Linked DNA regions of Homo sapiens: region 2 is linked to region 1. Evidence: fine-mapped expression QTL. Tissue or cell type: testis. Region 1 holds a variant in brackets; the other region holds the start of a gene. All regions are shown on one strand. Distances are between the middles of the regions.

Region 1 (8,268 bases):
ATCAATGAACAGAGATAGAAACATGTAACAGCCTTTTAAAATCTGGTAATTTGATGATTAAGTCATGCCTTCAGAAAATTCTCTGGACTTCTCATTACAAAATAGCACCCTGGTGATTGGGTGCAGTGGATAAGTATTATGTATAACCACTATCTGAGGGCAGAGTTTTCTGAAACTAAGATCAGTCTGGGACAGTAAGGTGTTTCTTTTTCCTGGATTTGTTATTACAATAGCACCACAATATTATTTATATTATGGAAGGCTAAAAAGTATAAAGAAAGCATTTGAAAATGAGCATAATCTTAACCAGAGTTGTTAACTCCCATTTATCTTTGAGATGAGATTGAGAGAAAAGGGTAAAAAAACAAAACAAAACAAAAAACACAGGAGATCGTCCCCTGGTGAAAATGATTCTCTCTGAAAATGGCCATAAAAGACAAGCATTACGTAGTTTCAACCACCTGCCTGATGAGGAGAAGTGAATAAGAAAAAAAAAAATTGTGCCAATACCTTATACACAGAAAAGGAGATATTTAACCCAATCTTTAAATATCAGAACCTAAGGAGGCAAGGCAATCGGGAATAAAAACATACTGAGGGTTATTTATATTACAAATCTTATTAGATTTGTACCTTCCCTTTCAGCCCTTTCCATGTTTTTAATATGTTTTAATGATAGTAACTGTGACAAGAAATTGGGTGATAGAAAATAGAGCAGCATTTTCACTTTCATCTGTGTCTCTTCAGAGACTGCTCTCAGATTTCACAGTCCAGATCCTAGTGTTTTTTAAAGTAGGATAAAGAGACAACACCAACAGGATATTTGCTTGAGTCTCCCTGTTTCCCACTTGGACAGTGTCTTGGTGCAGACTAAAGAGCTACATATATAAGGGTGATTGTTTACTCTGCTTATCTATACAAAAGATCTTAGATAAATAAATGCTCTCATCTACCCTTTCCTAGTTCAAAATCGCATCATCTTATTCCTTTGATATTGTCTAGACTTCCTATATCTGTGGTATTTAACTCTACTTTCTTTCTTTTTTTTTATTTTTTATTTTTTATTTTTATTTTTTGAGGCAGAGTATTGCTCTGTCACCCAGGCTAGAGTGCAGTGGCATGATTTCGGCTCACAGCAACCTCCACCTTCCAGGTTCAAGCAATTCTTATGCCTCATCCTTCCCAGTAGCTGGGATTACAGACGTGTACCACCACGCCAGGCTAATTTCTGTATTTTTAGTAGAGACAATGTTTGGCCAGGCTTGGCCTCAAGTGATGCACCCGCCTCAGCCTCCCAAAGTGCTGGAATTACAGGCACAAGCCACCACACCCAGCCAACTCTATTTCCATATGGTATTATTTTTCTGTTTTTTAATATGCTTAACTTTTTTATGAAAAAGCAAGATTTTTGTTATAAGCTAACTTTCCAAAAACTAAAAATAGCCTTGGTCTAATTTAAAACACTTTTATAACAGCTGAAAATAGATACAATCTATAAGATAATTTGCTTATCGTGGTCTATATATGACCTCAAAGACCCAAAAAGGTTTGCTCGTAAACGGAAAATTAACTTTTTAATGACCACCAGTCATCATCTTTTTTCAGTCTGAGCACTGGTGAAAAAGTTGCAGAGAAATATAAGATGAATCATTTTCTACCTTTATGGAGGTTCTTCTCTTTCCCAACCCTCCACCCCCTCCCCGCCCCGCCGCCCCCCCCTCCCCCAACGCACCGCCAGCCTAGGAAACCCTGAGGCACAAGGCCTATAATTAAGAGTGGCCCTGGAGGCCCGTGCCGTCACCTATCTTAGATATTTCAACAAGGTAGACCACTGGAGTAAGTATGCAAGGAAAAGAAAAAGTACATTGCTTGAACTCACACCATGATATTTTGAAGGTAGCACTAACAAGATTTTCTCTAAGAGACTTTATAGAGAAAGTAAGAGAAACAGGGTAGTCAAGGAGATCACCGAAAATTTTGGCTTGAACTGCGGAAGAATAGAGTTGCTGTGACCTAAGAGGCAGGAAACTACAGAAGGTGTGCATGTATTTTTTGAAAGTAAGTGTTGTGATAAATTAGAAAGTCAGTTTTGGAGATGACACATTTTAGATGTTTACTAGAAATCCAAGTGGAGATACTGAGTAGGCAGCAGAATGTACAAGTTGGAAATTCAGCAGACAAGTCTGGGCTGGAGATACAAATTTGTAATTGATCAGTATACAAAGCCCGGAATCTAGCTGAGATAAGCAAGGATGATTGTTGATAGGTAAGGAGTTCAAGGACTGAACTTTAGGGCTCTTCAGTAATGAGTGGGGAGTGACACAACTGGGAACCAGCAAAAGAGATTGGGAAGAAACAGCCAGCGAGGTTGGAGGAATTCAAGTGAAGAAATTGTTTCATGTGGGAGGAGCGATCAACTGTGTCTGGAGAGAATTGACCGCTGGCAATTGAGAATGATGCACCCTGCTCTAACAATGCTGAAGAAAAGCTTTTAATCTCCAGCTCCTAACTCTGACTCAAAAGCAACAGCCTTTGTAGAAATATCCTGCTTATATTTGTAACACTTAGGAAGTAAGTTATTTTACTTTGATTGTATTGAAATTCTATTGATAATTCACATTTTAAAATAATGTTCCTGAACCATATGCTCAAAATGCCCCTAGGCTTTTAAAATCCCTACCAAATGAGGAAATTACTCAATAAAAGGAAATTATCTCACTGACTGTGTTATTAGATATGTAGTTCAGTGATTTTCTGGAAAGACAGATTGCATGGCCCAGATGGATAATTTTCTTAGTCTGGTACCATCCACATTGATAAAAATCAGTTCCAGTCACTGTATATCAACATTCGCCTTTCCTTGTGGATACCAGTGCCTTGTCAAGGGCTTCGGTAAAGCTGTAGATTCAATGGACATACTGCACCTTTAAAAGGTTAAGATCCAAAAAAGTTAATGAATCAAATTTCTGTCCAGCAGTATATTTTAGCAGCATCCAGAATCAGATAAGGGCAGACACCACTGTTTTTTAGATGTAACAATAAAATAATTTGGAATATAAAAGCAAACTTTCTGAGTTCTAGAATATTCTTTGCCTTGAATATTAGAAGTCCTACTTAGAAATGCTTGTCTAAATTAGGGGTGGTTAAGAAGCCATGTAACCGTTGCATTCTAATCACCTTATGAATACCTAGGTAGCTAAAAACAGATACATACAAAAAAAAGCAGGAAAAAACTATACATCTAAAGACAGAAGATCTTGGGGAAAAGTTGAAAAGCAAATAGACCTAGACTATGTATAAAGCACCTTTCTTTGACAAAACACAAAAACAGTTAAAATGCAGGTATCTTCAATATTATAAACTGAGAAACCAGAAATAGAAAAGATTAGGAAAGATGGGAGATTTGTTTAATGTCACCGGGTCATCATAGAAATTGCTAGAATTTAGAACCCAGTTCTTCCCAACTCCAAGTTGAGCATTTCCAACAAGGCTATCCTGCAATCAGAAAATAATTAGAAGAACTACTCCTTTAGATGCTAAAAGAGACTTGGTTAGAGAATCTGATGCAATTTGGTCTTCTTAAATGATACATTTGCAATATCAGACACCTTTACAAACTCTGCACACAATGATTGTACATTCACAGGAAATCCAATTTGTAGTGCACATTACATGCTAATATGGAAATGTTTGAGTAAATAATTTCTTCATTGGACTATTTTATGAGTCACTCTGCTAGACCTATTGGCATTCTGTCAGCTCCATTC[T/G]GGTTACAATATACCAAACAATTATCCCTGACACTAAATATATCTTAGCCTTTAATGGCAAAGCCCCAGCCTGCAAAATATTCTGGATATGCTATTTATGCTGCCATTTGCAAATAGCATATATCCTAACAGCTGGGCCAGCTGGGCAGACATCACAGCATCTGGAGCAGAAATTAGCCTTTAGGTATGCAATGACTAACAAAGACGCCAAGGCAAAGAAGGATAAGTGTTAACAGTTTCATGCTTTTATATACATGACAATTATGCTTAGCAAAATGGCTCAAATGTATCCAAAACTCTCTATTCTTGAGAATTTTCAAAACCAATCTTAAATTTTTCTGGATCAATAAGAATTAGTTTAAATTGTGCTTGTCTCAGGCAAAGACGGCTATAAATCAATCTCCTCCTAAATGTACATGAGCAGTTTAAATTACATCACATGCCATGGCCAACAAGTGTTGGATGCCAAATCTAAATAGAGTAGATGTAATTTTCACTAGATTGGAATATGTAATACAGAAATGGATTTTTAAAATGTCATGGGAAATAACTGCATTGCCCATAATGTCGATATGCTCCCCAAACACCCAATACACAGATCCAATAGACTGGTAATACACATCACAGCACAGAGTTGATTCACCAGTGTTTTTTAATTCTATACATTATGTAAAAATGGTTGTGGTTTAAAGGGATGACTGGCTATATTCTTCAAAAATTGGATTCCATATTTCATGTTTATTGTCACCAAAGTTGTGGAACATATCTAGGTTTTTTTGCCCTTAATTCCTTAAACATTTTGAAGAGTTAAGGATTGTTTGAAGTTAAATTATTATTTTTAAACCTAAAGACCAAGTGACTTTCCTAATGTGAATGTGTGGAGGAACCTCAATTAAATATTCTACCATAAATGAACAAAGTGATTTCCCCACTTTCCAGTTACACATAACCCTTCTATTTTTATTAATCTCATTCATTACACTGCAGCTTTATTCCAGAGAAAATTCAAGGATTAGAAGAAATGGTAGCAATATTAAATAAACTTAATATCACCTTTATTGCACATAGCTATGATAACATGCTTAAGGTCTATACTAGAAGGTAACTCTTCACCTGTACACTTTATATAAATCATGAATACCTCAGATATATCTATAAATACCTTGAAAAAGTTCTGTCTTCAATAATTTATTCTAAAAAGAAGAAAAAATTAAATGAGAGCGCAAAGAAATCACACTTCAAACCTGAGAACATTTTTAACGAAATTAAAATAAACAATACATAATAGATTTCCAACGTATCTGGTTAAAGGGTATTCAGAAAGGAACACCCTCTGGCCTATTTACATTTAGGAAACATTAGATAAGATCAGATTTACCAGGGAACATCTCTGTTTTAGATTTGGAATGCCTCTGTAACAATTTTACCCAACTATTACCTTGTTGAGCCCTGGTTATTCACACAAGGAAAGTTAAAGACAGGGCATGTATTTTCAAGCCTGGGGCAAAAGAAAGTTGAGCACATCACAAAGAAGGAAAACTATCTGGTTTTCTAAGAGAGCTGCCAACTCCTTCTCTATCCCAGTACCAGTAGTTACTGAGAGGAACCAGGCGCGGGTTAACTCAAAAGGGAATTAATTCATATACTTTATCTCAGCAAGGGGAAGAGGTTTCTGCAGGGCTGCCGGCTGTTTGAGATGCAGAGAAATCACGATGCAATGTCAGCCTGCAGCGATCCCAGGTGTGCTCACCTGCTGGGGGCAGGGTGGGAGGAGCTAGATTCAGCAGGCTCTGGAAGTCTGGAAGCTGACTAGAATGATTGCTCATAGGAGTTGCTTTGATTTCCTCTAGGAAAGGGAGGTAAAGGAGGGGCTAATGGGGCCACGGCAGGTGGAGCCTTGAAATGGTTTCTATTTATTTCTCCTGACTCTTGTTATTTTGCTTCATCATTCATTGACGTTTCTTCCTCCCTATCTGGTTTAATTTAGGGCCGGTGTTTGTTTGTTTTTGTTGTTCAACTTGATTTCCTGGAAGACTGACAAAGAGTCTAAAGAATGTGAGTGCCTGCTTTGAATTAAGCCCACTGAGTCAAATTACTGATTGCAAAGGCAGCAGTTAGGAACAAGCAGATTTTGATTCAAGTTAGAAAGAGGCACTCATGGTTCCAAAGCAGTACAAGGAACAAAGAGAACACGGCCCTGTTCCTGGTTGCTTGCAAGAAGGCAGGAATAAATTGCTTGCTTGTTTAACTGCTTTTCAAAGTAGCAGATAGATTGTTTTTGGTAGTTAAATGTGGTTATGAAAGGTTGAACAATTAGAGTCATTTTCATAATCAGCAATTGCTGTTGCTGAAATTAGAGAGAAAAGTAAGTGATAAATAAAGGGAAAACATGTCTGGCAGGAAGCATTATTCAATCATAAGCTATCCCAAATGGTTAAAAATGTAGCTTATATTACACTCCTGTGAATTTACAACAACATGGAGGAGAGAACTAGGCCACTCAATTTCACAGTTCCAGGAGAAAACGAAGCTCTTTCTGGAACTTTTACTTTCCCAGCAATGTGTTTGTGATGCATTCCAGATGGACAAGCCTTGAAAAGTGACGGTATCCATCTATTTGTGAGAATGAACACAGAGAGAGTGAGAGTTTTCACATCCTTGTCTTCCTCAAATATAAACACCGCAAAACACAAATGAATCCTCTTAATCCAATTTGGGAGGACTCCTTAGGACAAAAGGCTTTATCAGTTATCATCAAAGCATTCAGTTTAATTCTTCTTCCCTTGAGTCTCAGGGGGTTGGGGGAGAGAGTAGTTGATGAAATAAAAGTAAAATAGAGCTAAAGACAGTTCTTTAAATGAAGACATACATACAGCTGATTGTTTAATGTATGGGTAACACAAGACTGAAACACATCAGTGATATGTTGTGAGTTCAATTAAAATATAAAAAGATTTTGACAAATTGGAAACATGATCTAAATCTAATAGTATGACCTTCAGTGAAAATAAATGTTAGGACTTGAATTTGGTTTCAGAAATGCGTAAGTGTGGGATAGAGGAGACATTGTTTAGCAGGAGCTGGTAATGAAATCTCATTTGCTAATAAACTCCAGAAAAAAAAAAAAAAACAAAAAAAACACAGTGTCACAAAAAGGGCTAATGTGATATGATTGCAGATGACTTTAGAGGAATACATTTACTAAATAAAGCAGTAACAATTCTACCCTGTGCCAGCTGACCTACATGCAAACCATGGCATATGCCTACTCTCCTATCCAATGTGAGAGGAATCCTTCTAGCCAAGGCCAATCCCTCCTCCGGTTGCCTGGATGGTACCTTACCTTCTTTCTAAGCAACCTCTCTCTAGCAGCTACTTCCTATCTCTTCTGGATCATTAACTTCTGCCTCTTCTCTGGTCCCTTCTTATCAGCATTTGATCACACTCAAGTCTTTCTCATCATGAAAAACCTTTTCTAGTCCAGTTGCTCATGCCTGTAATCCCAGCACTTTGGGAGGCCGAGGCAGGTGGATTGCTTGAACCCAGGAGTTTGAGACCAGCCTGGGCAACATAGCAAAAACCCATCCCTACAAAAATAATACAAAAATTAACTGGGGATGGTGGTGTGTGCCTGTAGTTCCACCTACTCGTGAGGCTGAGATGGGAGGATCACCTGAACCTGGGGTGGTCGAGGCTAAAGTGAGCCAAGATTGCACCATTGCACTCCAGCCTGGGCAACAGAGCGAGAGCCTGTCTCAAAAACAAAAACAAAACAAAATCCTTCCGTATACCGCATTACCCTTGTGACCACAAACCTCTCCTTTTTGCTGCTGAATTCCTACACAGTTACTCTCTTCCCTCCTTTACCTGTCTGTCATCTTCATCCTAGTGAAATTTGACTTTCGCCCCCACTGCTTCCCTGGAATGGCTCTTCATTAAATCACCAACTAAAGGACAACAACCAGCCCTTATCTTTTTTAGTCACTGAGTAGCTTTAGATGCAATTGACCAGTCTTTCTTGAATTTTTTTCTTCTTTTGGGTTTCGTGGATGTCTGTCCTGGTTCTCCTCCATGATGAGCTTCCTATTCTCAATGTTATTGCTGTTTGTTGTCCTGTATTTGTTGTAGTCGGTGTGTTTTGGAGGTTTGTCTTCCTCTGCCCATTCTATGTGTTGGTCTTCCATAGGCTTCCCGGTGAGCTTCCACAACACAGTTCTCTCATAGACAGGTGGAGGGAGTTCCCTGGATGGAAATCAAAGGCCAAGTGCCTGCACTATCATGGAGTCCTCCCTGCATTGCTTCATAGGGGATGCCCACCAAGAAGGCAATAAGGAGGAACCATAGAACTTCTTCCTATGGGACCCACAATGGAACAATCAGCTGCCTTCACACAGCAGTGGTTTCAAAGAGTTAACAATATTGAAGACTTTTAAGAAAATTCCCCATAAGGAAACATTTTGAGCTTAAATACATGGAAGAATAGAGACCCGATGTCACACAA
Region 2 (8,000 bases), 580 kb after region 1:
ATTTTTACTAGAAACGGGGTTTCACCACGTTAACCAGGCTGGTCTCAAACTCCTGACTTCAGGTGATCCTCCCGCCTCGGCCTCCCAAAGTGCTGGGATTACAGGCATGAGCCACTGCGCCCATCCAAACTGTTTTCTTTACACAATTTTGAAGATTTTATTCTCATGAAGAATGCTGAGGGAAAGGAAAATCATGAAGAATGTTTCTTAGGCTTAAAAGAACCTTAATGTCTTCTAAGATTAAATCTCAGAACTTCATAGTTGGAGATAGTTTGGGGATCATCTAGTCCTACTAGTTTCTTTTACACAGGGAGTCAATAAATATGTATATGATGAATGAATAAATGAATGTGAAGACTGAATGAATGAATGTGTGAATGAGGTAGCTTAACTCTAGACAGACCTGAATTGTATTGTTCCATGAAATGACTGTGTGTTTTAGTCAGTTTCAGCTGGTAGTTGGTAACTAAAAGACAGATTTGAGGCTTCTGTGTGTATGTTGTTTTTCATTTTTTTGTCTGGATATACAAGTAAATGGCAGAACCTGGGAAACCCAATTCCAAATCCAATCTACTTTCATGTCCACTAGTGAACATCTCACATTTTCTCATAAAAACAAACAAAGAACACCACAAAGTCCTTTGAGATGACAAGTTTAGATAGTCCTAGAGTTTTAAAACTGGGATATGTTATTGAAGTTCATTTCCAAACCAGTTGCTTTCAATCTGAAATGCACTTTCTCACGTACAATGCTAGATTCACAGGCTAGCCAACAAAACAGAACAAAATGCAAAACAGCAAACATCTTTTCAACCCAAAATATCTACTAGAACCCAACTAAGTGTTAAGTTCTGGGAACATGAGGTCATGAGATGTGTAAGTACAAGAGAAAAAAAAAATCAATGAAATGCTCTTCTATTCCTCTTTTCCACTTCCATTTACTGACTGTAAAATTACTTCAAAGAGAAATTTGAAAAATTCCAAAAATCTGTTATTGGCCCTGTACTACCTCCCTTTGTGTATTCTTCTCCCATTCTTAGTGTCCTTTTTGTTCCAGGTGCTTGGATGTCCCCCATCTTAAATAATGACAGCTATCGTCTTATTGAGCACTTACTATGAGTCAGGCACTGAGCTAACAAACTCAAAGAGATTAAGTAATTTGTCTACAGTCATGTGGCAAAGCCAACATGGAGCCCAGCTGTGCTAATCTCTGAAGCCCATGTTCTTAAACTACCCAGGTCTACTACACTGGTTGTCCTCTACCCTGAGCCAAGTCCTTCCTGATATGAGAATCCACCTCCTCCCTTCCTATTACAGCCAAAAGGGTTTCATGCTAAAGATTGCCAGCATTCCATCCCCTTCAATCAAAACAGTCATCCCCTTATTGTAGCCAAAGTGCCTTAGAAAACAAAAGAGGAGGGCAATCTGAAGTAACTCATGATAACCTCATGTTTCCAGAGATTGTACATACTATTTCAAAGGGGGCACACATTATTATAAATTCACCTTCAACTAGTAGCATTTCAGGTAGCTGATAAGAGCGGGAAGTGAAAAACTATGTATGCAGCAAAAGAGTATATATTTTTGGACAGAATAGGAGGCCACAGATTCTACTAAGAGTTTGCCCCCAAAGTCAGTACCCCAGTATAGAATATATTTTCACAATTTCTTTTCTTTTCCCATATTTTAATCCATAGCTTAAAAGGGGAAAAAAAGCAACAAAAAATAATTGGCATTTAATAAATCCTTGCTGCCTTTATTTGTCAAGTGATGAAACCAAAGCCTAGGGCAACAAATATGAAGTCATATAACAATGGCAGCCCAGAGAAGGGAAACCTCCAAACTGCTAACTCCCAGGCCAGTACAATTTATTTTTGATACCTATAACCCAATTCACCAATTGATTTTTCTTTTCTGTTTAAGGCCTGCCTGAATGAAGACGAAACTGATTAAATATGGCTATAAACCCACAGGAATTTGACCAGGCAAAAATTTTCTTTTTTAAACAGAACCAACTCCTATCTGAAAATGGCTTCTAGAAATAATTATTTAATAAAATAATTTAATCCATGTCTTTGTTTCATAGTAACAGAAAAATATCCACCTCCCTTTCCTCCCAAAATTCAGCTGCTGCATATCAGTTTAATTGTACTACCTAGCAGTTCAAAGAAATTGGCTTTTCAATGGACATTAGAATCTAAAACTCCTAGATTTAATGGGTCTGTCCTCTGAGGCCCACAAAAGTGCAATCATAGAACAATAGGGTCAATACATTTCTTATCAAGGGTTCACCTACTTTGATATCACCCATTCTTGGAAGGGAACTCAGGTCAAACTGTTATCAAACAAATATATAAATAGATAAACTAAATGAAGCTAATGAAGAGACCACAATCAAATAGTCCTGGGAAAGACTATTAGCTGGCCTTCTTCAGAAATAAACATGCAGGGAAAAATTGAGAAAGGACAAAGGAGAAGGTCATGCACCTCTAAGAATAGAGCAAATAAAGATATTAGTTTAAGACAACGGTCCTCCAGGTAAATATAAAAGCTAAGTTCTTACCACCAACATGAACAAGTGAAATACACTTATTTGATGGAAAACTTACGGGCACAAAGCAATTGTTGACCAAATAGCAGAAACCAGTCTACAAAAATCATAATTAAAAATACAAGTATAATTCTGTTAATTAGGCATAGAAATTTATAATCTCCACGTCTTACAATTGTCCAGTGTTTATTCATGTACCTAAATTAAACTAAAATAATTTCAATCCAGGCAAACCACCCTGAAAGATTTTTTTCTTAAGATGTTTATATCTAAACCCATGCTCAGATCAGCAAAAACATTTAGAAAGGAAAATATTCTATTAAATTTTTTAAAAACATTTTATTGGGGGATCGTTAAATATAAATAATCCATTTTAAATAATATAAACACGTAGCAGAAGTACATAAAACATACTTTCATTTTCTAAAACATAGAGAACAGTAACTTCTTCGCCTCCAAAAGAACAGACCATTTAATACCATTTAAAAAAATCTTTTGGCATTCCTATTGCCCTTCCCATAACTAAATGAATCAGTGACACGTGTATATATATACATATATTGGAGATGGAGTTTCGTTCTTGTTGCCCAGGCTGGAGTGCAATGGTGCAATCTTGGCTCACTGCAACCTCTGCCTCCCGGGTTCAAGTGATTCTCCTGCCTCAGCCTCCCAAACAGCTGGGATTACGGGCGCCCAGCTAATTTTTTCTACATGTTGGTCAGGCTGGTCTCGAACTCCTGACCTCAGGTGATCCTCCCACCTCGGCCTCCCAAAGTGCCGGAATTAGAGGCGTGAGCCACCACACCCAGCCCTGATGTATATATTTGAATCTGCTGTTTATTCATATGTTGAATAAACATTCACAGTTGGGATTACTGGCATACATCTTCCACAATTATAACATTATTTTAGCTAGTGAATAATAAAACTAATTTGATTTTGGTTAACTTCTTTTCAATACAGATGGTTTAAAAATAAGACAAAGCCTGTCTTTTTCTATTGTGATCTTAAAAATATCTTTCTAACATGCTTTTTAAAAAAAATACATAAGTATGCTACCACTGCCTTGTAGTAAACTTTAGAAAATGTTGAGATTCCAAAGGGCTGCCTACAAACCAAATGGCATCCTAGCTTTGGCAGGCTGATGCTTCATTTTGGCTGCTCTCGCCCCCTCTAGCGTTTGCAAAGCTCATCTGTCTGATTATCCAGTTACCTCACTGAACAAGATCTTGGCTAAGTCCTGCCCATCTATGACATCACCCCCTTCTTCAGCCACTGCGAGGTGAAGCTTTAAACTTCAGACTTGGAGGTGGGCTGTGTGCAGTAAACTGGAATGCTCTCCCTCGCTCACTCCTCAGTGTAGGAGTGATCTGAAGCAGGACAAGCTCAGCCTGCAGCTGCCGTGGGCTTTGTGTGGACTGGACGCAGAGCTTGGGAGACGGGGGAGGGCTATTACTCCAATTCACTGTCAATGGAATTACAGCTATAGCGGCAGTGTATATAGGATTGCTTTTTCTCGTCTTCCTGGTAAGTGTTTTCCATGTTTTTTCTTATGATTGTCCCAGAAAGTTTGCTTGGTTTTACTCTCTAGAAAGAAACGACTTGATACTATGAGAAATCCAAATAGGAACGTTTGCTCTGTCACCACAACAAGCAATATATGTGCGTGCAAGCCAGCAATGAAAAATTTCACTATCATGGCTGAATGTAAGAAGTTTCTTAGAACCTTCTTTCATTTATAAAAGATAGTAAGTGGCTATTTTCTGTCTTGAGTAATTGCTATGTGAAAAGAGCCTTATGGAAAACAGCAAGTTGGAAAGTTCAATGTTAAATATTAAAGAATACAAGGAGATTCTTCACAGATAGGAAAGCAACTTGGTGTGTACTGTACGTGTGGGATGATCACCAATTGCTGTTTTTACAACTGTGAAAGAAAATCAATAATCCCTCAGCCCATGAGTACGCAGTACATGAAAAGCATACATCTTGCTCACAGCTAGCCGAGCTACTCCTGGAGACTTATGTGCCTCTGTAAAGGATTAACAGCTACACCTAGATTTTAAAGCTTGCACTGCTATCGTGCCTGAGCTGCTTCAAGCATTTCAGGCTTGCAAATCTCAACTAGTAAATTGAACTCAGAGGAGGGGGAGACACTCTTCCAAACCATATTCCCTCTTCAATAGAACACCAAAATCCATTGCTTAGGCAAGTGAAGTATGTGACTAGCATAGTAAATGGCTAAGTCTACTCAGAAAAACTAACAAAGCTCACCCTGGAAGCTATGCCTGATGTATGCAGTGAGTTTGGGGTAGCAGGAAAGAAAAATAAATGAGTAGAGCCCTTATCAAGTGGGTTTTGCAGAGGATCCATTCTTTGCAACTTATAATAGGAAAATCTTATATTGGAAGAAATGCATTTATACTACAAAGCTTGAAAAAGTAGTTAAATGTATCTTCTCAAAAAATTTTGTTCACTGAATTAGGTCTGAAACAAAATGGTTGCATATAGGTAAAGAGTGCAACAGGCCCATCCATGTCTTCTCAACATCTGGGGGGTTTGTTTTTATTATTTTATTTAGAATTTAAAAGAAAAAAAATTGATTTTTTTTTCAATTTTTAGTCCAAAATCTCTAATGGTTTTAATAATAAGGCTATTTTAAACATTCTTAATAAATCTGTCTATTAATAAATCTGTCTAAAATGCTCATCTATGTTATTTTATTATCCAGAAACAACATAAATAAAGCCACTAGAAAAGTCCTTCAGCTGTAGCAATGCCTTTCATTTATCTCTGACTGCATAAAAATATCCTGACCAGCCTAAACATAAAGAATAAATTTGCTTATATTCAGGGAGAATCACTTATACCTGACCCAAAGTGACAGATGACTAATATTCATCTCTTCCGAAATGAGTAAAGAAAAATTAATCCTTTAAAAGTGCCACAATCAATAATATCAACATTACCAACTACTACAAATATTAATGATAATATGCCAGGTTTTACCATGGGAAAATTAAATCAGAGATATGCCCCTTAGTTTGGACACATATATATACACACAGACAAACGCACATCTATTTATTACCCTGAAATAAAAACAGAGTTACAAAAACGCATAGATTTACTAAGAAAACTAAAATTTGATTTTTTGAAGAGCACAACCAAAACACATCAAGTCCAAGGATCAGCAAAATATTAGTGAATGAATAAACATAATGAATTCATTAATATTGCGGTTCTGTAAAACTGTCTACCAGTTACTAATTGGGTTTTTCATTTCGCTGCACCCCACCCTTTAAAATCAATTATGACTGGGTTCAAAATGCACAATTAAACACTTCCCAAACATAACGTTTGTGAGATATATAATTGGATAGCAAATAAAGTTTTTACAAAAAGAAGAAAAACAGTAAGAAAATCTGTCATAACTAAATGTGGCAGCAAAATAGAAGGTATGTTTCTTTTGCTTTCAAGTGTTAATTAAGGAGCCTACAATTCTATCAAAACTTTTTCAGAGCTAAATGAAGCAGTGTGAAATAAATTTGGTTGAAATCTTGTGGCTGTCAGACTTTGTTAGCAAGCTATTAATTATCTTTACCCCAGTTTCTTCTCTAGACTATATTGCCCAATCAAATAGAAACTCCAATTATGCTCAGCATCTCCTGCCTAGGGACACAAGACCCTAATGAACACTCAGTCTCTCTAGATGAAAAATACAATAATCAGCTTTAAACATGCAAGTGCACTGCAGAGAGATTTTTCTGTGCTTTTCTTGGCCACACACCCTAAGGCTTCCTCCTTTTTCTGGATTATTTTGAACAGTTTTAAGCCCTACAAAAATCAGTGCAGGGAATTGGCCTTGTCTTAATAATATATTAATGTTTCTTCTTTCTTGCTTTTCATTTTTGATATGCCAATGTTCATACCAATATTAAATCTGGTCAATGAAAAAGTATTGGTTTATAGTTGCCATTTCAGTCATTTCTTAACTTCTATGCCTCTTTTTAAGGTGGGTGGGCTATATAACAAAGAATGTGATTGATTAATGGCAAAATCCAGAGCTAACTTAAAAATTCTGAATAGATCCCCTTATATATTCTTTTATTCAAACCCATTTATTTAAAAAAAAAAAGCATTAGAAATAACTGTTTAAATCAAATGAAGACTACCATAAATAAAGTCAACAATGGAAATAAGATTCAGTAATTTTTCAAAGGCCATAATTTCTCCCCTCCGTCTTTCCTCCTTCCCCCTTCCCTCCCACCCCCCACCTTTTGCCCCAGAGGCCTTCACTGTTCTTCTCAACGGGAGGCTTTGTTGTAATTAAACCAGAGAAAAACTGGCCAGCAGCAGCCAACATCTGACTTGCGGCTTCAGAAAGCAGTGTTCTGGTAGAGTGTACCACCCCCCAGTGGGCAAAAACTCTACAGTAAAAATCTCTCAGCAATATTAATCCTCAAAACTGCATTTTCTCTTCAGAGCATAAAAAGGGATGTTTCTCAGCTCCTTCTAACATTCCACCATTTCAAAAATTTACTGAAAGTCAACAAATAAATTTCCAACAAAGAGTTGGTCTTCTGAAACAGCATTCTTCCTCTTAAGAAAATAGGTATACACATTTCAAAAAGTATTTTCCAGTTTCAAAATACAGATCGACATCACTCAATTTGGTTAAACATCACACTAAAAGACAGTTTTCAAAGCTATGTTTATGTTGTGTAAGAAAGAACTTTGAGTTATCTATTTACGAAAACCCCAGAGAAAACAGATTTTAAGTAGAAAGCAATAGAATATAATTTAAGCAAAAGCTAAAATTTCATTTGTTTTGCATATGCATAATCTCTTTCCTACCCTAAAATCAAGTGTCAGGGATGTATAAAAAGCTTTCTGCAGGTATTATTCTGTTTAAATCAAAGGAGGGAGAAATTGCTCTCACTCGATGAGACAATGACAGCTTTTGTTCTTTATTCTTTCACTTTACATGTGCACAAGTTACCGAGGCAACTTTGAAGAGAAAACCCACAGACCACATTTGGTTAAAAACCATTTTTAAAGTGTGCCACTGGACTGTGGATTGATCAGTTTATGTGTTGTTGATTTTCTTCCTCTTCATCTGGTTTAAGTAATACCCTGCTTGGACATGAAAAACAATGTATTTTATGATTTCAGGTGGTCTCACCGACCAGTATAGTGCTTGCCACACAGTAGACTAAAATAAATGTATTTGCTGAACTACTGTATGGAAACTTAAATATTAGAAATTTAAAGCACATCAACCAAGTTGTACCCACACTGTTAAAAAGGAATTTGAAGTCTGCAATGGTAAAACGTGGTTTAACAAAAGTAGGCAAACTTTTAATTGCATTTGCTCAAAAGCACAAATTTAAAGCATGCCCCCACCCCAAACTCTGCACCACTTACCTTCACCACTCTCTAAATTAATATC

Direction of the effects. Alleles are on the strand shown, and positions count from the first base shown. SD is a standard deviation of normalised expression in the study named.
For the expression in testis of the gene that starts at base 3,870 in region 2, T is the high allele of the variant in region 1 and G is the other (moderate effect, 0.63 SD a copy in GTEx).

The links. PIP is the estimated chance that this variant, and not a neighbour inherited with it, causes the effect.
Region 2: it holds the start of FLRT3, and the variant in region 1 is fine-mapped to the expression of FLRT3 in testis (GTEx, PIP above 0.99).

Annotation. Positions count from the first base shown.
Region 1 is chr20:14,917,247-14,925,514 of GRCh38, reverse strand. The region is part of intron 5 of MACROD2 (mono-ADP ribosylhydrolase 2); the gene reads right to left. The region is part of intron 1 of MACROD2-AS1 (MACROD2 antisense RNA 1); the gene reads left to right. Among named protein-coding and RNA genes, the nearest start is that of MACROD2-AS1, 8.1 kb to the left of the region's middle. RefSeq lists an enhancer at 5,225-6,074. The variant T/G (reference allele first, on the strand shown) is at 3,768.
Region 2 is chr20:14,333,482-14,341,481 of GRCh38, reverse strand. It overlaps FLRT3 (fibronectin leucine rich transmembrane protein 3), which reads left to right and starts at 3,870. Exons shown (of 3, transcript NM_198391.3): 1 at 3,870-4,078. All of the region lies in intron 3 of MACROD2 (mono-ADP ribosylhydrolase 2), which reads right to left.